Regions from separate parts of the Homo sapiens genome. Here region 1 is linked to region 2. Evidence: fine-mapped expression QTL. A gene starts in region 2. The other region holds a variant in brackets. All regions are shown on one strand. Distances are between the middles of the regions.

Region 1 (9,728 bases), 22 kb after region 2:
TCTTTGAAGCAATTGTGAATGTGAGTTCACTCAAGATTTGGCTCTCTGTTTGTCTGTTATTGGTGTATAAGAATGCTTGTGATTTTTGCACATTGATTTTGTGTCCTGAGACTTTGCTGAAGTTGCTTTTCATCTTAAGGAGATTTTGGGCTGAGACGATGGGGTTTTCTAAATATACAGTCATGTCATCTGCAAACAAGGACAATTTGATTACTCTTTTCCTAATTGAATACCCTTTACATCTTTCTCCTGCCTGATTGCCCTGGCCAGAACTTCCAGCACTGTGTTGAATAGGAGTGGTGAGAGAGGGCATCCCTGTCTTGTGCCAGTTTTCAAAGGGAATGCTTCCAGTTTTTGCCCATTCAGTATGATATTGGCTGTGGGGTTGTCATAAATAGCTCTTATTATTTTGAGCTACGTCCCATCAATACCTAACTTATTGAGAGTTTTTAGCATGAAGGGCTGTTGAATTTTGTCAAAGGCCTATTCTGCATCTATTGAGATAATCATGTAGTTTTTGTCTTTGGTTCTGTTTATATGCTGGATTATGTTTATTGATTTGCGTATGTTGAACCAGCCTTGCATCCCAGGGATGAAGCCCACTTGATGATGGTGGATAAGCTTTTTGATGTGCTGCTGGATTCAGTTTGCCAGTATTTTATTGAGGATTTTTGCATCGATGTTCATCAGGGATATTGGTCTAAAATTGTCTTTTTTGGTTGTGTCTCTGCCAGGCTTTGGTATCAGGATGATGCTGGCCTCATAAAATGAGTTAGGGAGGATTCCCTCTTTTTTTATTGATTGGAATAGTTTCAGAAGGAATGGTACCAGCTCCTCCTTGTACCTCTGGTAGAATTCGGCTGTGAATCCATCTGGTCCTGGACTTTTTTTGGTTGGTAGGCTATTAATTATTGCCTCAACTTCAGAGCCTGTTTGTTATTGGTCTATTCAGGGATTCAATTTCTTCCTGGTTTAGTCTTGGGAGGGTGTGTGTGTCCAGGAATTTATCCATTTCTTCTAGATTTTCTAGTTTATTTGCATAGAAGTGTTTATAGTATGCTCTGATGGTAGTTTGTATTTCTGTGGGATCGGTGGTGATATCCCCTTTATCATTTTTTATTGCATCTATTTGATTCTTCTCTCTTTTCTTCTTTATTAGTCTTGCTAGTGGTCTATCAATTTTGTTGATCCTTTCAGAAAACCAACTCCTGGATTCATTGATTTTTTGATGGGTTTTTTGTGTCTCTATCTCCTTCAGTTCTTCTCTGATCTTAGTTATTTCTTGTCTTCTGCTAGCTTTTGAATGTGTTTGCTCTTGCTTCTCTAGTTCTTTTCATTGTGATGTTAGGGTGTCAATTTTAGATCTCTCTTGCTTTCTCTTGTGGGCATTTAGTGCTATAAATTTCCCTCTACACACTGCTTTAAATGTGTCCCAGAGATTCTGGTATGTTGTGTATTTGTTCTCATTGGTTTCAAAGAACATCTTTATTTCTGCCTTCGTTTTGTTATGTACCCAGTAGTCATTCAGGAGCAGGTTCTTCAATTTCCATGTAGTTGAGCAGTTTTGGGTGAGTTTCTTAATCCTGAGTTCTAGTTTGATTGCACTGTGGTCTGAGAGATAGTTTGTTATAATTTCTGTTCTTTTACATTTGCTGAGGAGTGCTTTACTTCCAACTATGTGGTCAATTTTGGAATAAGTGTGATGTGGTGCCGAGAAGAATGTATATTCTGTTGATTTGGGGTGGAGAGTTCTGTAGATGTCTGTTAGGTCCGCTTGGTGCAGAGCTGAATTCAATTCCTGGATATCCTTGTTAACTTTCTGTCTCGTTGATCTGTCTAATGTTGACAGTGGGGTGTTAAAGTCTCCCATTATTATTGTGTGGGAGTCTAAGTCTCTTTGTAGATCTCTAAGGACTTGCTTTATGAATCTGGGCTCCTGTATTGGGTGCATATAGATTTAGGATAGTTGGCTCTTCTTGTTGAATTGATCCCTTTACCATTATGTAATGGCCTTCTTTGTCTCTTTTGATCTTTGTTGGTTTAAAGTCTGTTTTATCAGAGACTAGGATTGCAACGACTGCCTTTTTTTGTTTTCCATTTGCTTGGTAGATCTTCCTCCATCCCTTTATTTTGAGCCTATGTGTGTCTCTGCACGTGAGTTGGGTCTCCTGAATACAGCACACTGATGGGTCTTGACTCTTTATCCAATTTGCCAGTCTGTGTCTTTTAATTGGAGCATTTAGCCCATTTACATTTAAGGTTAATATTGTTATGTGTGAATTTGATCCTGTCACTATGATGTTAGCTGGTTATTTTGGTCGTTAGTTGATGCAGTTTCTTCCTAGCATCGATGGTCTTTATATTTTGGCATGTTTTTGCAGTGGCTGGTACCAGTTGTTCCTTTCCTCCAGGAGCTCTTTTAGGGCAGGCATGGTGGTGACAAAATCCTCAGCATTTGCTTGTCTGTAAAGGATTTTATTTCTCCTTCTCTTATGAAGCTTAGTTTGGCTGGATATGAAATTCTGGGTTGAAAATTCTTTTCTTTAAGAATGTTGAATATTGGCCCCCACTCTCTTCTGGCTTGTAGAGTTTCTGCCGAGAGATCTGCTTTTAGTCTGATGGGCTTCCCTTGTGGGTAACCCGACCTTTCTCTCTGGCTGTCCTTAACATTTTTTCCTTCATTTCAACTTTGGTGAATCTGACAATTATGTGTCTTGGAGTTGCTCTTCTCGAGGAGTATCTTTGTGGCGTTCTCTGTATTTCCTGAGTTTGAATGTTGGCCTGCCTTGCTAGATTGGGGAAGTTCTCCTGGATAATATCCTGCAGACTGTTTTCCAACTTGGTTCCATTCTCTCTGTCACTTTCCGGTACACCAATCAGATGTAGATTTGGTCTTTTCACATAGTCCCATATTTCTTGGAGGCTTCGTTCATTTCTTTTTACTCTTTTTTCTCTAAACTTCTCGCTTCATTTCATTCATCTGATCTTCAATCACTGATACCCTTTCTTCCAGTTGATGGAATCGGCTACTGAGGCTTGTGCATTCGTCACGTAGTTCTCGTACTATGGTTTTCAGCTCCATCAGGTCATTTAAGGACTTCTCTACACTGGTTATTCTAGTTAGCCATTCGTCTAATCTTTTTTCAAGGTTTTTAGCTTCTTTGCATTGGGTTCGAATTTCCTTCTTTAGCTCAGAGAAGTTTGATTGTCTGAAGCCTTCTCTCAACTCGTCAGTCATTCTCCATCCAGCTTTGTTCCATTGCTGGCGAGGAGCTGTGTTCCTTTGGAGGGGGAGAGGTGCTCTGATTTTTAGAATTTTCAGCTTTTCTGCCCTATTTTTTCCCCATCTTTGTGGTTTTATCTACCTTTGGTCTTTGATGATGGTGACATACAGATGTGGTTTTGGTGTGGATGTCCTTTCTGTTTGTTAGTTTTCCTTCTAACAGTCAGGACCCTCAGCTGCAGGTCTGTTGGAGTTTGCTGGAGGTCCACTCCAGACCCTGTTTGCCTGGATATCAGCAGTGGAGGCTGCAGAACGGCGAATGTTGCTGAACAGCAAATGTTCCTGCCTGATTGTTCCTCTGGAAGCTTCGTCTCAGAGGGGTACCCAGCCGTGTGAGGTGTCAGTCTGCCCTACTGGGGGGTGCCTCACAGTTAGCCTACTCGGGGTTCAGGGACCCACCTGAGGAGGCAGTCTGTCCATTCTCAGATCTCAAACTCTGTGCTGGGAGAACCACTACTCTCTTCAAAGCTGTCAGACAGGGACATTTAAGTCTGCAGAGGTTTCTGCTGCCTTTTGTTTGGCTATGCCCTGCCCCCAGAGTTGGAGTCTACAGAGGCAGGCAGGCCTCCTTGAGCTGTGGTGGGCTCCACCCAGTTAGAGCTTCCCAGCCACTTTGTTTACCTACTCAAGCCTCAGCAGTGGTGGGCGCCCATCCCCCAGCCTTGCCGCCGCCTTGCAGTTTGATCTCAGGCTGCTGTGCTAGCAATAAGCGAGGCTCTGTGGG[C/T]GTGGGACCCTCCGAGCTATGCACGGGATATAATCTCCTGGTGTGCCGTTTGCTAAGACAGTTGGAAAAGCACAGTATTAGGGTGGCAGTGACCCGATTTTCCAGGTGCCGTCTGTCACCCCTTCCCTTTGCTAGGAAAGGGAATTCCTTGACCCCTTACGCTTCCTAGGTGAGGCGATGCCTCACCCTGCTTTGGCTCACACTCGATGGGCTGCACCCGCTCTCCGGCACCCACTGTCCGACAAGCCCCAGTGAGATGAACCCGGTACCTAAGTTGGAAATACAGAAATCACCTGTCTTCTGCATTGCTCATGCTGGGAGCTGTAGACTGGAGCTGTTCCTATTAGGCCATCTTGGAACCGCCTCTCCCACATTTTCTTTATCTGTTCATCTGTTGATGGACGTTTATGTTGCTTCCATATCTTGGCTATTGTGAATAATGCTGCAGGGACCATGGAAGTGCTGATGTCTTTCTTGACGTAAAATTTCATTTCCTTATACACTCTGAGATGGGATTCTTGGATCATGTGGTAGTTGATATTTTCAGTTTTTTGGGGAATTTTAGTAATGGCTGTATTAATTTATATTCCTACCAGCAGTATACAAGGGTTCTGTTTTTGTCACATCCTCATCAACACTTACTTTGTTTTGTCATTTTGATAATGGCCATTGTGGCCTGGCACAGTGGTTCACGCCTGTAATCCTAGCACTTTGAGAGGTTGAAGCAAGAGGATTGCTTGAGCCCAGAAGTTTGAGACCAGCTTGGGCAACATAGTGAGACCTTGTCTCTGTAAAAAATAAAACAAAAATTAGCCATGTGTGTTGATATACAGCCATTGTCCCAGATACTTAAGAGACTGAGGTGGGAGAATCGCTTGAGCCTGGGAGGTCAAGGCTAGAATGATTCATGAATGCACCACTACACTCCAGCCTGGGTGACAGCAAAAAAGCCATTCAGGTGTGAGGTGATATCTTATTGTGGTTTTTATTTGCATTTTCTTGATGATTAGTGATGTTGAGCATTTTTCATACAGCTGTTGTCCATTTATGTGTCTTCTTTTGAGGAATGTCTATTCAAGTCCTTTGCCTATTTTTTTAATCAGGTTGTGTTTTTAGAACTTTCTTTCATTTAGTTTCCTTACGTATTTTGGGTATTAACCCCTTATCCGAGGTATGGTTTGTAAACATTTTTTTCCTATCTATAGGCTGTCTCTTTATATTATGGGAATTTTTAAACATATACACAAAAGAATAATAATCAGGGACTCTCTAAGTTCCTAATTCCTAGCTTCAAGAGAACATTTTCTTTTTTTTTTTTTTTAAAGAGAGTATAAATTAGTATTTCCTTAGTATTAGATATCTAGGAAGTTCTCTCTATTGTCTCATGAACTTTTTTTTTAATAGTTGGTTTGTTCAAATAAGGGTCCACTCATTACACACATAAGCTTAATAAGCCTTCTAGTCTGGAAGATTCCACCTTCTTTTTTCCTTTTCCTTTTACTGCCTATCCACATTCTGGATGTTACTAATTGTATCAAGTGTCATTTAGTGTCTTCTCCCGGCCCCTGTGTTTGCTATAAACTGGATTTAGTTCTGGTGGCCTGATCAGAACCAGGTTTGAATTCTTGGCAAGGATCCTTCCTTCTGCATCCTGTCGGAAGGCATGTGATGTCCAGTTGTCCCTTCATAATGCGATCGATCAGGTGCCAGAGGTGCTGGGGTTTTGTTTATTATTATTATTATTATTATTATTATTATTATTATTATTTAACTGCACAAGTAATATATATTGTTCCTTTACCCCCCCAAAAAAACAACAATAATAGACTGCCAAATTTTTGGACCTTTTCTGCATTTAGAGGTAGTTGAAATCACAAGGGAAAGTGGTGGTCTCTAGGTCAGGGATCCCCCACCCCTGTGGCTTGTTAGGAACCGGGCTGCACAGAAGAAGGTGAGCCGTGGGGCGAGAGCGAGCATTACCACCTGAGCTCCCCATCCTGTCAGATCAGCAGCAGCATTAGAGTCTCATAGGAGCAGGAACCCAATTGTGAACTGCACGTGGAAGGGATCTGTGTTGTGCACTCCTTATGAAAATCTAACTAATGCCTGATGATCTGAGGTGGAAGAGTTTCATCCTGAAACCATCCCCTCTGACCCTCTCTGTGGAAAAATTATCTTCCATGAAATCAGTCCCCGGTGCCAAAAAGATTAGGGGCAGCTGTACTAGGGCCACCCCCTCCCCTATTCCTGGTAGAAATAATTGCCTCTCAGAATGCTCTGGGTGAAGACAGGAGCCTCCTGGGCTGGATGGAGAGTGGAGAGTAGCGCAGAGTTAAATCATTTGGGGATCCTTCCACAATCCCCCATCCAATCACCCTGCCTACCACCTCAGTCCATGCTGCTCCTCCCATCAGTTATCTCTGAGCTTACTGTACTCACAGCCTGCTCCTAGAGCTTCTGCTATGGGAGAGAGGGTTGTCCAGTCCAGGCCACTGTGGCTTCTGCCTTTCAGGGATTCATTATAATTTCCAGTCTATCAGAAGCATTCTTGGTTGTTTCCTGATGGAATGAAACTGTTTTGAAATTGCCCATTCTGTAGGTCAGAAATGGTTGAATATCAGCAGTTTCATGTGGTTCAACCTAATAAATAATGGGGTTAGACTAAAATGGTTACATATTTCTCACCCCAAGTTATGTCCTTATAATGTATTTATACCTGACATTATATATTTGTGACCTGTTTCCCTCTAAGCCATGTGAGATCAAAGTCACTTTCTGCCCAGTTTGCACCATATCACCAACACCCACAACAGTTCCTGGCCCATCTTTGCTCTGTCAGTAATTTTTGAGGGCTTGAACATAGTCATTTGAATAGAGAGATAGGCTGGAGTTTGTGTTTTGGAGACATCTTGATCAAAATCTCAATGGCTGTCAACGTCCATGTGTTTGGAGGTAATAGTTTAAGAAAATGATTATAATATGATTGCTAAATAGAGTGGAATACAAAACTCCATATTCAGGATGATCCAGATGTATAAAGTATTACAGATGATACTGTAAAGTCTGAATTGGGCACTGAGCCTTGGGTTAATCTGTTACTTAAACAGTATGACTATACGCTGTTGCATTTCCCAGATCTTTTACTCACATGTCTTAAATGTAGATGTTTCACATACTGGCTCTTTCAAGAAAGCAGTTGGGTCAGAAGATGGAGACTAGAAAGAAAACAGGTATTGCCATCAGATCTGGTTTCATTCTATCTTAGCCAGGTAACCTTAAGATCTTCTACTATTTTTCTGTTTATGAGACATATGGATAACCTGCCCTCTTAATGTTTCCTTGGAAGTTCAAAGTCTCTAATAAGTGCCTTTTGTGGGATCTTGCATGTGTTAACCTTCTCAGTAACTGAGTGCCATTATTGAGAGTGTGTGCATACTGGCTGGAGGGTCCACTAGTTGACACTACTTTACAACAACAGGAGGAAAGAATCTGTTAAAAGAAGGATCCCTGGCAGGGTGCAGTGGCTCACGCCTGTAATCCCAACATTTTGGGAGGCTGAGGCAGGCAGATCACCTGAGGTCAGGAGTTCGAGACCAGCCTGGTCAACATGGTGAAACCCCGTCTTTACTAAAAATACAAAAAAAAAGTAGCCAGGTGTGGTGAGCACCTGTAATCCCAGCTACTCGGAAGGCTGAGGCAGGAGAATTGCTTGAACCCAGGAGGCAGAGGTTACAGTGAACCGAGATTGCTCCATTGCACTCCAGCCTAGGCAACAAGAGTGAAACTCCATCTCAAAAAAAAAGAAGGATCCCTAAGAGAATATAATTTAGCATGAAATCTCAATTTTTACATTGATTACTTATTTGGGGTGATAACGTTTTGAATATATTAGGTTAGACAAGATTTTAAAGTTAATTTTACCTGTTTCTCTTTTACTTTTTCAGTGACCACTAGAAATTTTAAAACTATGTAGGTGGCTAACATCATATTGCTGTTGGATGCATCTTTTAAGTGCTGCTGCCTTTGATTGAGCTGAGTGGGTTCCAGTTAACCAGGCTTGAGCACATATATCATTCATTATGTGTTTGAACATCTCATAGCAGAAGATGCCTTGCATATATATCATTCATTATGTGTTTGAACATCTCATAGCAGAAGATGCCTTGTGGTTAATGCCCTCTATGTGTTTTACTGATAGCACATTTCTTAGTAAAGTGAATCTTGGTGTATTGAGACGGGCATCTCCTACCTCCACTTGCTGATGGCATCAGATACAAATAGGCTGTGCCATTTTTAGCCTGGGGTTTCCCAGAGTCATACCCACAGCCCCAACTTGTTTAACAGGATTGTAACATCCTGTAAAGCCACCCCGTGGATTATAGAATTCCAGGGCAGCTGGGGCAGGAGCATTGAATCAGGAGGTTTCATCTTGACTCTGTTTGGCCCTGTGCAAATCACTTTACCCACTACACGTTGGTTCTTTCTTCCCAATGGAGGGCTGAATTGCACCATCTCTCTCTCTCATTCTTTTGTTGTTTTTTTTTTTTGTTTGTTTGTTTTTTTGAGACAGTCCCACTCTGTTGCCCAGGCTAGACTGCAGTAATGCAATCTCGGCTCACTGCAAGTGTGAGCCACTGTGCCTGGCCAGGCTCCTTTTCCCTACACTGCCCGTGTATTCTCTCCAGGGACTTACCTAGAACCACACACATTGGCCTATTGCCGTAAGTTTGTCAGCACGTTGTCTCAGAAAAAAAAAAAAATCCTCATCCTAAAGTGTTCTTCAAAGGCTAGCGAGATTGTTTAATAATACGGCTATTCTTATTTTATAGATGGCCAAGCTAAAGCACATCATTTTCTTTTCCTTCAGTGCCAGCATGAGCAGGGCGGGGGGACCAACCTCAGATTTAAGAAAGACATGTGGCTGATTTTTAGGGTTGTTTTTAGAAACATTAGATTTCTTCTCTAATAATGAAATATACTTTTGAAGGACTCTGACAATGCTGGAAGCTCTTTTAAGAAAAATGTCATTCTTATCTGAAAATCTTTTTTTTTCTTCTCTCTCTCATGCTACATTACAGCTGATGAAGTTAAAAAGCCTGGGCATAAGAAAAGGGGAGCCCTGGGTGTGACTGCCCTGGAAAAAGAGGTAGAGAGTGCAGTGGGTTCAAGTATGTTTGGGTATGTGCAGTCAGTCTTTGTGTCTTTCTCATTCAAGTAAATTCCATAGCAATTAAAGTGAAAATAATCATCTTTCATTTGTGAGTAGAGCATCCATAGAAAGCAACATATATCTTGGTCTAGAACTTAAATTCCAAAAGAATGTGTTATATTTTTCATTTTCCCGTTTTTGTTGCACAGGGACGAGTTTCCTGATGCTTCCTTGCCATAGGCCCTGGGCTCTGTGTGTAGTGTTCTTCCCAAACCAAAAATTAAAAATAGGAAAATCAGAATCTATACCAAGAACTTTGTCTAGGAGGCTTGTCTGCAGTAGGTTTCTTCAGTGCCTATGCCTCCTGCTGGATTGTGTTTGATTAATCCATTTCTTTTAACTTGTACAAGGTCCCCATTGTTAGAGCCACAAGTCATTTGGCCACTGAGGGTAAAAGATGGTTAGGAGTGGGATTTGTTCCACTTCTTTGCAGCGATTAAACAGTCAGTTTGAACTGGGGAAAGTATTTGACCTTTAGTCTGTCCTAAAAGAATGTCATCAGGCTGTTTATA
Region 2 (9,728 bases):
AGACAAGGTGATTTGCAATGAAGGATATTTCTAGGGTAAAAGGGACTTTGAATAGAAGGAACGAATAAAGAAAACTGAAGGAGAACTTGATTCTATTGCAACAAGAAACATATGGCTAATTCCAACTATCTGGAGCATACCAACTTTAAAGCAGACTGTCAAAACTGACCCTACTTAACTCATTTTAAAGCATGGGGTTCTTCCCTCAACCAAAAACACAGATGCCAGGTTACACTTTATAACTGGACTCTCCACTTTCATTAAAGGTCATTATAAGGAATTGCCACCTAAAATGTGATGTAAATATTTTTTGAGAAACCTAGTATATCACTTGCAATTCCCTCTATAAAGTACCTGCAATAAATGCATTTTTAATATTAGATTTCAGTAATATTTTCTTCACTTGTGACATACTACTTATTTTGTTTTATCACTATGATAATGGGAGAATGGAACACTTCTCTTTGTTTTTTGTTCTTATTTCCTTAAAGTTTTAGAGTAATAGTCACATACTAACCTATAAGAAATTTAGAAAGGTTCAATTAGGCCTTCTATGACAAAAATATCTAAGTCTCTAGTTACTAAAATGTTAATGTTTATGTTGTATCATGGTCTATACTGCAGAGTCAGGGTAAAGACACATAGCTGTATTTTTTAGATCAATAATTTGTTCAGTTATTTACAATCAAGAGTGTTAAGAGAACTTGGATTGCAGACAAATCTCTTATACATTTATCCAATTATATTCAATGTTTTTTCAGAAGGGTACCTTAGGACTGGCCTGGTACATACTTGCATATCTTTTGCTTCTTAATAAACACTAGCCACTATTTTCTTTTCAGTACATTTTTTTTCCTTCTTGGGCAGGATAAAGAGAAGTTGATTATTCTGATAATTGCCTGTGGAGAAGTTTCTTTGGATACAATTTTATTAAGGGCATTGAGTCTCTGAGTTTAACTTTTTTCTTCCCAATGACCACACTGTGCACAACGATGATGTTGTGGATTTTGAACCTGAATTTATACCAGTTCAGACATCTTTGGCTTCTTCATGCTGGCATAGGCTTGCCTGGCTGAGAATCTGAAGATGCAATAATTTTTAAAATGTATTACTGTCATTATTATAATTAGTTTACTTATTGTTCCCCCAGATATTTTTTCAACAATGTTCTGCTAAATCTAGAGTGGCTGCTTGCTAATAGAACTTTAGCTTTTTCACAAAGCTTCCAATGTGGGAATCTAATCCATTGTCAAAAGTAGTGGCCAAAATGTCCCTACTCATTGTGGCTGTGATACAGGTGTATTGTAAAAAGATGTGATTCACACACCATTGGGGATCTCTAAGCACACCTCCATGTTATTTAGAATTTTTATTTTGGCCCAAATATCTACAAGGTAGTGGGGAGTTATGTGAGTTTCTTAGGCCATGACAACTTGCCAGCTTTAATACCTTCAGATGAGGATGGGTTACCAGCCAGCTTGGGCCCATTTTGTAGTACCCATCCAGGACAGACATACTGGTCAGGGGCAGAAATATAACAATTCAGTGGGAAAGCTGATATGGTTGGCTGAGGTGATACATTTCATGCATTTGTGTGAATACTTCCTCCTGAAGATTTGATGATTCTGGAATGGTTTGGAGACGACTTCAAAAATAACATGTTTAGTAAAAGGGAACTGTAGGACACTGAAGAACCACTGCTCAAGACCCAACATAGTCAGCTACTGGTGATAACCATTTCAGTACTTTGTTGGCTAGGACCTAGAAGTTGGGAAGACATTTATGAGAGATTATCAAAAAGGGAGAAGCTGTTGGAATCCTTATACTGTTTCATAATCAGAATTGTTGTAAGGTGACCTAGTTCTTGATAATTATCTTTAGAAAAGCAAGGGTACAGGTTAACAGAGGGGGATTTATAGGATAAGAACAGAAGGGCAGGGCAAAATCTATGTTCACAAATAGACCGACTCTCCTTGTCTTGTTGACATAGTAATCAAAAAGGGAGACCACTGAAAATTTTTGCGTATTCAAAATTATTGAAAATTTTGTCTTCCTTTTATTTTAGGGCTTGTTAAGAAAAAACATGACCCAAAATTTGGAAATAAGGCAAAAATATTACTGCCTACCTTTTCAAAGATACTGCACTAAAGAAAGCACTGTCCCACAGGACTGCCCAAGGGTTATCCAAGTCTGGGTAGCAAGGGGTCGTCTGATTCAGGCACTACCCTGAGCGGAAAACAATGGCCCAAGACCTCGACCAAACCCAGCTCTCCACCTGTTTTTGTACAGCTTTGAACTGAGAATGCTTTTTTACAATCTTAAGTGGTTGAGAAAATATCAAAAGTAGAATAATATTTTGTCACATGTAAGTTTACATGAAATTCAAACTTTAGAAGAATTTCCTCTTCACAGACATCACATCTTCAAGAGCAAATGCTTGAGCCCTAACCTGCAAGTTATAGTAGAAAAGTCCAGAAGTCCAGCCTGGTCCTCGCCAAGTTTCCAACTCCTATGCCTAGGGGTATTTTATGCTTACAGGATCTAACTTGGTTACAACGTCTAACTTTTAGCAGAGAGGCAGTGCTGAGTAGAAACTGGACTTGTTAACCATATCAAGTCACTTAAGTTGGCTAGGATCCCCTACTTAGGTAGCGGCCATAAAGCCTAGGGCATCCCTGTGCCCTCAATGGTTCACTTCTGAGTGGTGGGCTTCCTGCTCCTCAATAGAGCAATCGGCAGAAAGGCCCCTAGAAAGCTACATTGTCTTCATCCGCGAAGGATTCCCTGTCTCCTATTCCTCAAAGGAGCACCCGGATTCTACTTTCATTCTTCTTTTGCCATTGCATTTTATAACTTAAAAGAAATAGATGATTGTAACAGAAGAAAGAAAACTTTACATTGTGAGAAAATTTAGACCTAAAGCTTATAGTAATGTGAGGACGAAAGTCTATACTGTTTAAGTAAATAGGTTCTATGAGCAGCATCCAGGCTAACATCACACAGTGGTATTTTGAATTAAATTGTACTTGTGTTTTGTTTCCGTGTTTTGCTGCTGTAAGGAAAGAGGAAAGCATCCCCTTTCTCGGCCCTCCTCCCACGTCCAGGCTAATTTGCAGCATTTCTACATCTCAGAGTCCACCCTTAAGATCCTTGCCACCCATTATTTTGTTTCAGAACGCTTAATCCATCAAGGAAGGTTAAATTGGATTACCCCAGTAGGGAAGGGACGGGGGCTGTAAGCATGAGGGATTATCCCTGTAAAGGGCTCGTGGTGTGTGTGTGTGTGCGTCCTGCTAGTGTTGAATGACGGAGACCTGAGTTTGGATTCTGAATCCAGGTGTATTCGATGCCGCTCCGGCGTAGAACGGGTTAAAGATGCCCCCAGCCAGGTAGAGCCAGACTGGGAGTTGTGCAAGGTCTCAACCCCCTAAAAGCGGCCCCTCAAATTGAAGATGAGTAAATCATAGTTCGTAAATCAGAAAGATTATCCAGTACTACGTTACTCTGTTTATTTCCCTTTCGTCATCCCTGAGTCTTGGGTCAAGTCCATCCCAGCTCTGTCCTCCAGGAATCAAGGGAAATACGCAAACCCGCGGTGGGTTCGCAGCCGCAGGAAGGACAAATCTTGCCCCCGCCGCGGCGGCCGCCCCGCGTTAGCTGCCTAAGAGAATCTCCGTGGCCGGCCAGTACCCGCCTTGGTGAGGATTCTCCCTCCCGCGAGAACTTCTGGAATGCCGCCGGGCCAGATTTTGCAGCTGAGGCCTCCGACGCCACTAATATTGGGCCAAGCAGGGAGTGCTGCTCTTCCTTATAAGGTTTTAGCGAAAGTTAAGTAAGCCAATTAAAGTGCAAAACACACAGTCTGGAACAATACAGCGCTCTATAAATGGTCTCCATTATTATCATTATCCGTTAGTTATAACTGGGGATAAAAAAAAAAAAAAAACGACAAAAACCTGGAGAACCGGAAAGGTCTGCAAAAGGGGCGGAACGCGGGAACTTCGATTTGGGGAAGGGGTGGCGGGGGAGATCCCACACAAGCAGCCAATCCAGCTGTCCCGGGGAGGAAGAGGAGGAGTCAAGGCCCGCCCCTGGTCTCCGCACTGCTCACTCCCGCGCAGTGAGGTTGGCACAGCCACCGCTCTGTGGCTCGCTTGGTTCCCTTAGTCCCGAGCGCTCGCCCACTGCAGATTCCTTTCCCGTGCAGACATGGCCTCTGGCACCACCACCACCGCCGTGAAGGTGAGATGAGCCCTCCCAGCCGCAGCGGTTCGCCCTGCCGGATGCCTTCTCGCCCCCGCGCCGGGGGACCGCGCCTCCGGGGGCCATGCGCCCGGCCCGTGCGTCCCTTGCCGCCGCGGGGAGGGACTGGGGCGCGGCACTCGGGACTCACTTGCCGCGCGAGGAGAGGGTACGCTTGCAAATGATCCCCCTGCCGCACCGCCAACACACACACACACACACACACACACACACACACACACACACACACACACACCACCTTTTGGCTTATCTGCACCCGCACCCTGTAGGGCGTAGGCACCCCTTTAGAGAGAGAGGTCGTGGATGGGAGAGGCTGCACCCATGCCACCACCATTCCTGAGAACCACTCTTCTTCCAAGAAAGACACCCGGCTGGAGTCAGGAGGTGTCCGGGCGCCTGCAGCTTCTGTGACCGTCTCCTGGTGCCTTGCGGGACTCCAGCTTCCGCTCTCTGACTCTGCTTGTTGCCTGCGGCCCACGTGGGAGAACTGCTTACTTGCTCTTTTGTATGCTTCCGGCTTCTTTTTCCTCCAAACGTAGGCCTTCTCCGCGCTGAAGTTTTCCCCAGCAGCGTAATACTGTAAGAATTCTGAGACTTTCTTCGAAAAGGAGTACAGGCGTCCGTTTTTAGGGCTGCACTGTTTGGAGGCCTCTGGCTTGAAACTGCTTTGTTTTGCAGCCTTGCAAGTTAGAGTTCAATTTCCTTGTGCCCTAGGCCCTGAGAGGCCTTGATACAAGGGGTCATTGTGCGGTGGGAAGCTTTGTGCTGAGGAGGGCACGAGTTCTGAGAGTAGCAGCTGGCTTCCCTGGGGTTTTAAACACTTCTCTCCTGGTTAGTATTCCGAGAGAGAATTACAGCACGTAAAGAAAAATTGATGATAAAACTTAAGACCTCTTCTAGGCAGTTTATTACTGGCTAAGAATGCGTTCTTGTTTGATTTTTAGAAATTTTTGGCCTATGGGATAGGAAGGTCTGCGATCTTCTCCAAAGCATCTCGATTCCCTACACTCGACTGCAGTTTTCCCGGGAGAAGGCGAATTTCTGCGGTCAGTGTGTAATCAGCCAGATTAGTTTATTACGCCCTTGCAGGTTTAAATGAGCCACTTAGAATGAGAGGAATGGTGAAGGGTGTTGCATCCAGACTTATATATGAAACTTATTTTGTCATTTTGAAAAGAATCTTGCATCCAGCAAATATTTATAGAAGGCCTCTCCCCTGCCTTCATTGTTTGGCGGAAACAAGGCAGAAATGGTTTTCATGAAACTCGTGTGAAGTATGTGACTTCTCTTAGGTGCTCATCTATAAACTGAGAATTTTACTGCAGAATTTGCTAGGAGGGCTAGAATTATATTGTCTATGTTGCACATGGTAGAAGCTTATTAAGTGGTAGTGCTTATAAGTGGGGGAACTGAGATTAATTTTGAATGATCTTTTCCCCAAAAATTATTAAGTTATTGTGTTAGGTATCATTAGGCCACAACTTTTCACCTTATCCTTGCAGGAATACACTTCAAGCGCCATTAAAAATGGAGAAATGGTGTTTAAAACAGTCTTACTTTAATCTGGTTAGCATTCTCCCTGCCACAGGGTTTCCCTTCAAATTAATGCAGTGCATTTAAGTGCAGAATGGGCAATGGGATTCTCAGAGACCTGATGTAAATATTGAATAGTGTGTATTTTTGGTCTTGGCAAGCTTCTGGATATAAAATTAAGAGGTACATATGGTGCTAGGACTGCCTGCTGATTTCTCTTTTAATTTAGAACAGATGACAGCTTTGCCGTAGAGATTCCATGATGCCAGCACCGTATTCCCCAGACTTCTAAGGCAACATTCTGTATAGAAGATGTGAGGTGCCAGTGTCCAGAGCAAAATAGGTTAATAAAAACCACATCCTATTCCCAAATTATAGAATGATGGGGCTGGAGTGTTCCTTCAAGACCATCCATATAGCCACACAAACCCGTTTTGCGGGTGTAAAGTTGAGGCCCAGAAAGGTCAGCTAAGTATCCAGAATTACACAGCTGGACCTAGATAATGACAGAATTGGGCCTAGAGCCTGGCATTCCACCAACTAGATGTGAGGCATTTCTGAAATCTGAAGTGTGGTCTCTGCCCTGTTTTCTTGTGACCTAATGCACAATTAAAATGAGCACTTGATAGAATGTCCATCTTGAAGAGGGAGGCAGAGGGTATGCAGAAAGCAGGCTGCCTCCAGTGCCCACTGCACACCACCCAGGTATAGGTATAGGAGGCACATGTGTGTCTGAACCCCATTGGTGTCACTGGCAGGTCCTTTGAGAGGTTGCTGGATTTAAATACAGTAACATGTAACACACTCAGCCCAGTTCCAGGTACTCCTTTAATGTCAGCCCAAGTACCTCTCTTCTTAAAATAGAGATATTAACGGGGTGGATCTTAAATTCATTCTCAATTTTAGAGGTGCAGTTAACTCATGCAAGTGAAAGATTCCACTGAGTTTTGGATTGGCAGTATATTTGGCATATCTTTCAAATCTAGCCATCTACTGGTGGAATCCTATTCAAAAATATTTATTGAATACCTGCTAGACAATGGGGATGCAGCTTTGAGTAAGCGAGGCCTTTATTTATTTTCTTCAAGTTTATATTCTAGTCAGGGTGGGAAACCAACTGACATGAAAGTGAAACAGCAGTAAGATTCCATTGGGTGAGGGGTGTCAGAAAAGACTCCTAGGGAGGTGGATTTTAAGCTGTGCAGTAGTCTGCCTCCAAAATCTGTATGTTGAAACCTAATCGCCAATGTGATGGTATTAGAAGATGGGGCCTTTGGGCGTGATTGGGGTCATAAAGGTGGAGCCCTCATGAATGGAAGCAGTGCCCTTACAAAAGAGGCCCCAGAGAGCTGCCTTATTCCCTCTACTAAGTGAGAGGACACCATCTATGAGCCAAAACGTGGGCCTTCCTCAGACACTGAATCTGCTGTGACCTTGAACTTGCTAAGCCTCCAGACTATGAGAAATTTCTGCTGTTTATAAGCCACCCAGTCCTAAGATATTTTGTTATAGCAGCCTGAATGGACTTAAGCTGATAGTGAAAATAGGGATAAAGGGTAAAGATCCAAGTGAAGACCTGAGGAGAGAGATGGGGGTAGGAGAGCGAAAACCAAGATGTCGCAGAAGTGAGCTCAGTGTGGTAGGAATGGAAATCACGGATGCACAGTGAGAATTGGGTGGATGCAGCTCATAAGGCCATCCTTGTAGACCGCGATCAAGAATTTTGATTTTAAATGTTTTGGAAACTGTTGAAGGGTTAAGAGTGGGAGGCAGCATTTGATTTACATTTTAAAATGATTACTCTGGCTGTTGTATACAGAATAGCCTGTGGGCAGGGGAAGAGCTAAGAGATCAGGCCAGAAGTCTTGGTGCTGGGGCTGAAGTCTAGGGTGGGAGCCATGGAGGTGGTGAGGAATAATCAGATTGGGGATAGAATTTGCAGGTAGAACACAGAGATGGATAAGATGTGGGGAGTGCAGGAAGAAGAACAGGATGATTTCTGCTTTTGACCTGGAAAACCAAAAAGATGATGATACTGGTGGATCATTTCAAAGTGGGCGATAAGGGGCCACGAGTGACTCCTTGGAGCCAAGGAGGGTGAGTGTAGGATTCCTTCCTCCCAGATACTGCTGGTTAGGGGGCCAGAGGCTGGGATGCTGAGGGGCCTCTTTGCTGTAGGAGCAGAGTGGGTGGCAGGTTGAGGGAGGGAGGAAGCCACCTGGAGTGAGAGTAATTCAAGCAATCTTTTTTGTGGTTCACTGCAGTGAGAGATGGTCCAGGCAGGGAGTGAGGATATTACCTGGGGGGTAGCCATGGAGAGAGGCAGCAGGAGCCAGAGGCTATGGGATTAACACTGCCATTGTCTGAGAGGACCTCAGGGAGACATTGTCCTCCAGCATCAGCCAAGGGCAGGTGGTATTCCTGACAGAGGGCCAAACCAGTCTTTGGCACCCAGATACAGGGCATTCTGGAGGGCTCCTGCAGTGTACCATGGCTCCCCTGGGCAGCCTCCCAGCTTTCATTCTGGGAGATTAAAAATAAGACTTGGCCAGGCGCGGTGGCTCATGCCTGTAATCCCAACACTTTGGGAGGCCCAGCTGGGCAGATTACCTGAGCTCAGAAGTTCAAGACCAGCCTGGGCAACATGGTGAAACCCCATTTCTACAAAAAATACAAAAATTAGCCAGGCACGGTGCTGCACGCATGTAATCCCAGCTACTCAGGAGGCCAAGGTGGGCGAATCTCTTGAGCCCAGGAGGCAGAGGTTGCAGTGAGCAGAGACTGCGCCATTGCACTCCAGCCTGGGCGACAGAGTAAGATCCTGTCTCAAAATAATAATAATAATAACAACAACTTGTTAATCATGGTTGCTGTGACAAGGAGGGGATATGGTCCCATTGTAGGTTGGTAGTGAGCTATCAACATAATGATATTAAGGGAGATGGACAAGTCATGGTTTGTAGACTGTGGAATATGGGCCTTTACACTCCCTGCTTTGCTGTCTTGAGTGTGGCCTGCAAGGGCCTTCAGCCTGAGAGTCCTTGTGTGGCTATCTGAAACTGAGGACAACCTGCAGGCCCCAGTTGAAAATCACATGACCAACAAGCCTTCATTTTTTTTGCCTAGGGACACAAGGGCATTTTGGGCAGGACAATTATTTCTTTTGTAGGACTGTCCCAAGCATTGCAGGACATGGAGTACAACCCTTAACCTCCTCCACAGAAATGCCAGTAGCACTCCCCCTAGTCATGACAGCCAGAAATAGCCCTGTTTCCAGATACCCCCAGGAGAGCTGTTTGACATTTAGTTGAGGACCCCAAGGCTAAATCCCAAAAAAGACTACCTGCTGAAGAGAGGTAGGAGCAGCCAGGTTTTGTACTGCTCAGCAGAGTAAAAGGAGGAAATAAGGGCTTTTTTTGTTGCTTTGAGGAAGTTTATTTTGATTTTTTATTTTTGCCAGGAGTGGTAGGGTATACAGAAACAGAGACTGATGGTAATACATTATTTCATTTTATTCTCTTGATAATTTTATGGATTAGTAAAAATCTTACCCTATAGGTACAGCTGAGGAAGCAGTTAAGGAAAATGTTTGTATGCAGTGGATTCTGGATCCTCACCTGTGGTTGTAGTCATGGCATTCCAGCCTGTGCCTCAAAAGCATCTAAAGCAGTGGTTCTCAAAGCGTGTCATGCATTCATATCACCTGGTCATTTGCTAGAAATGCAAGTTCATAGGCCCCACCCCAGTCCCAGTGAATCAGAAACTCTGGGGCTGGGGCCCAGCAATCTAGGTTTTGACAAGCCTTAGAATATTCAGATGTCCACCGAAGTTTGACAGCCACTGACCTAGAGAGCTTTGGAAAGGGTGGCCATCTACATTTTTAACAAGTTCTTCCCTTAGTGTTATAGTTTCCTGTTGCTGCTATAACAATT

The links.
Region 1: its variant is fine-mapped to the expression of MTAP in whole blood (TOPMed, PIP 0.98).

The regions. Positions count from the first base shown.
Region 1 is chr9:21,820,876-21,830,603 of GRCh38, forward strand. All of the region lies in intron 4 of MTAP (methylthioadenosine phosphorylase), which reads left to right. Among named protein-coding and RNA genes, the nearest start is that of MTAP, 23 kb to the left of the region's middle. The variant C/T (reference allele first, on the strand shown) is at 4,008.
Region 2 is chr9:21,798,540-21,808,267 of GRCh38, forward strand. It overlaps MTAP (methylthioadenosine phosphorylase), which reads left to right and starts at 4,097. Exons shown (of 8, transcript NM_002451.4): 1 at 4,097-4,242. The coding sequence starts at 4,210. RefSeq lists enhancers at 2,976-3,606, 3,607-4,235, 4,730-4,939, 6,598-6,742, a silencer at 4,280-4,439 and a cis regulatory region at 6,670-6,671.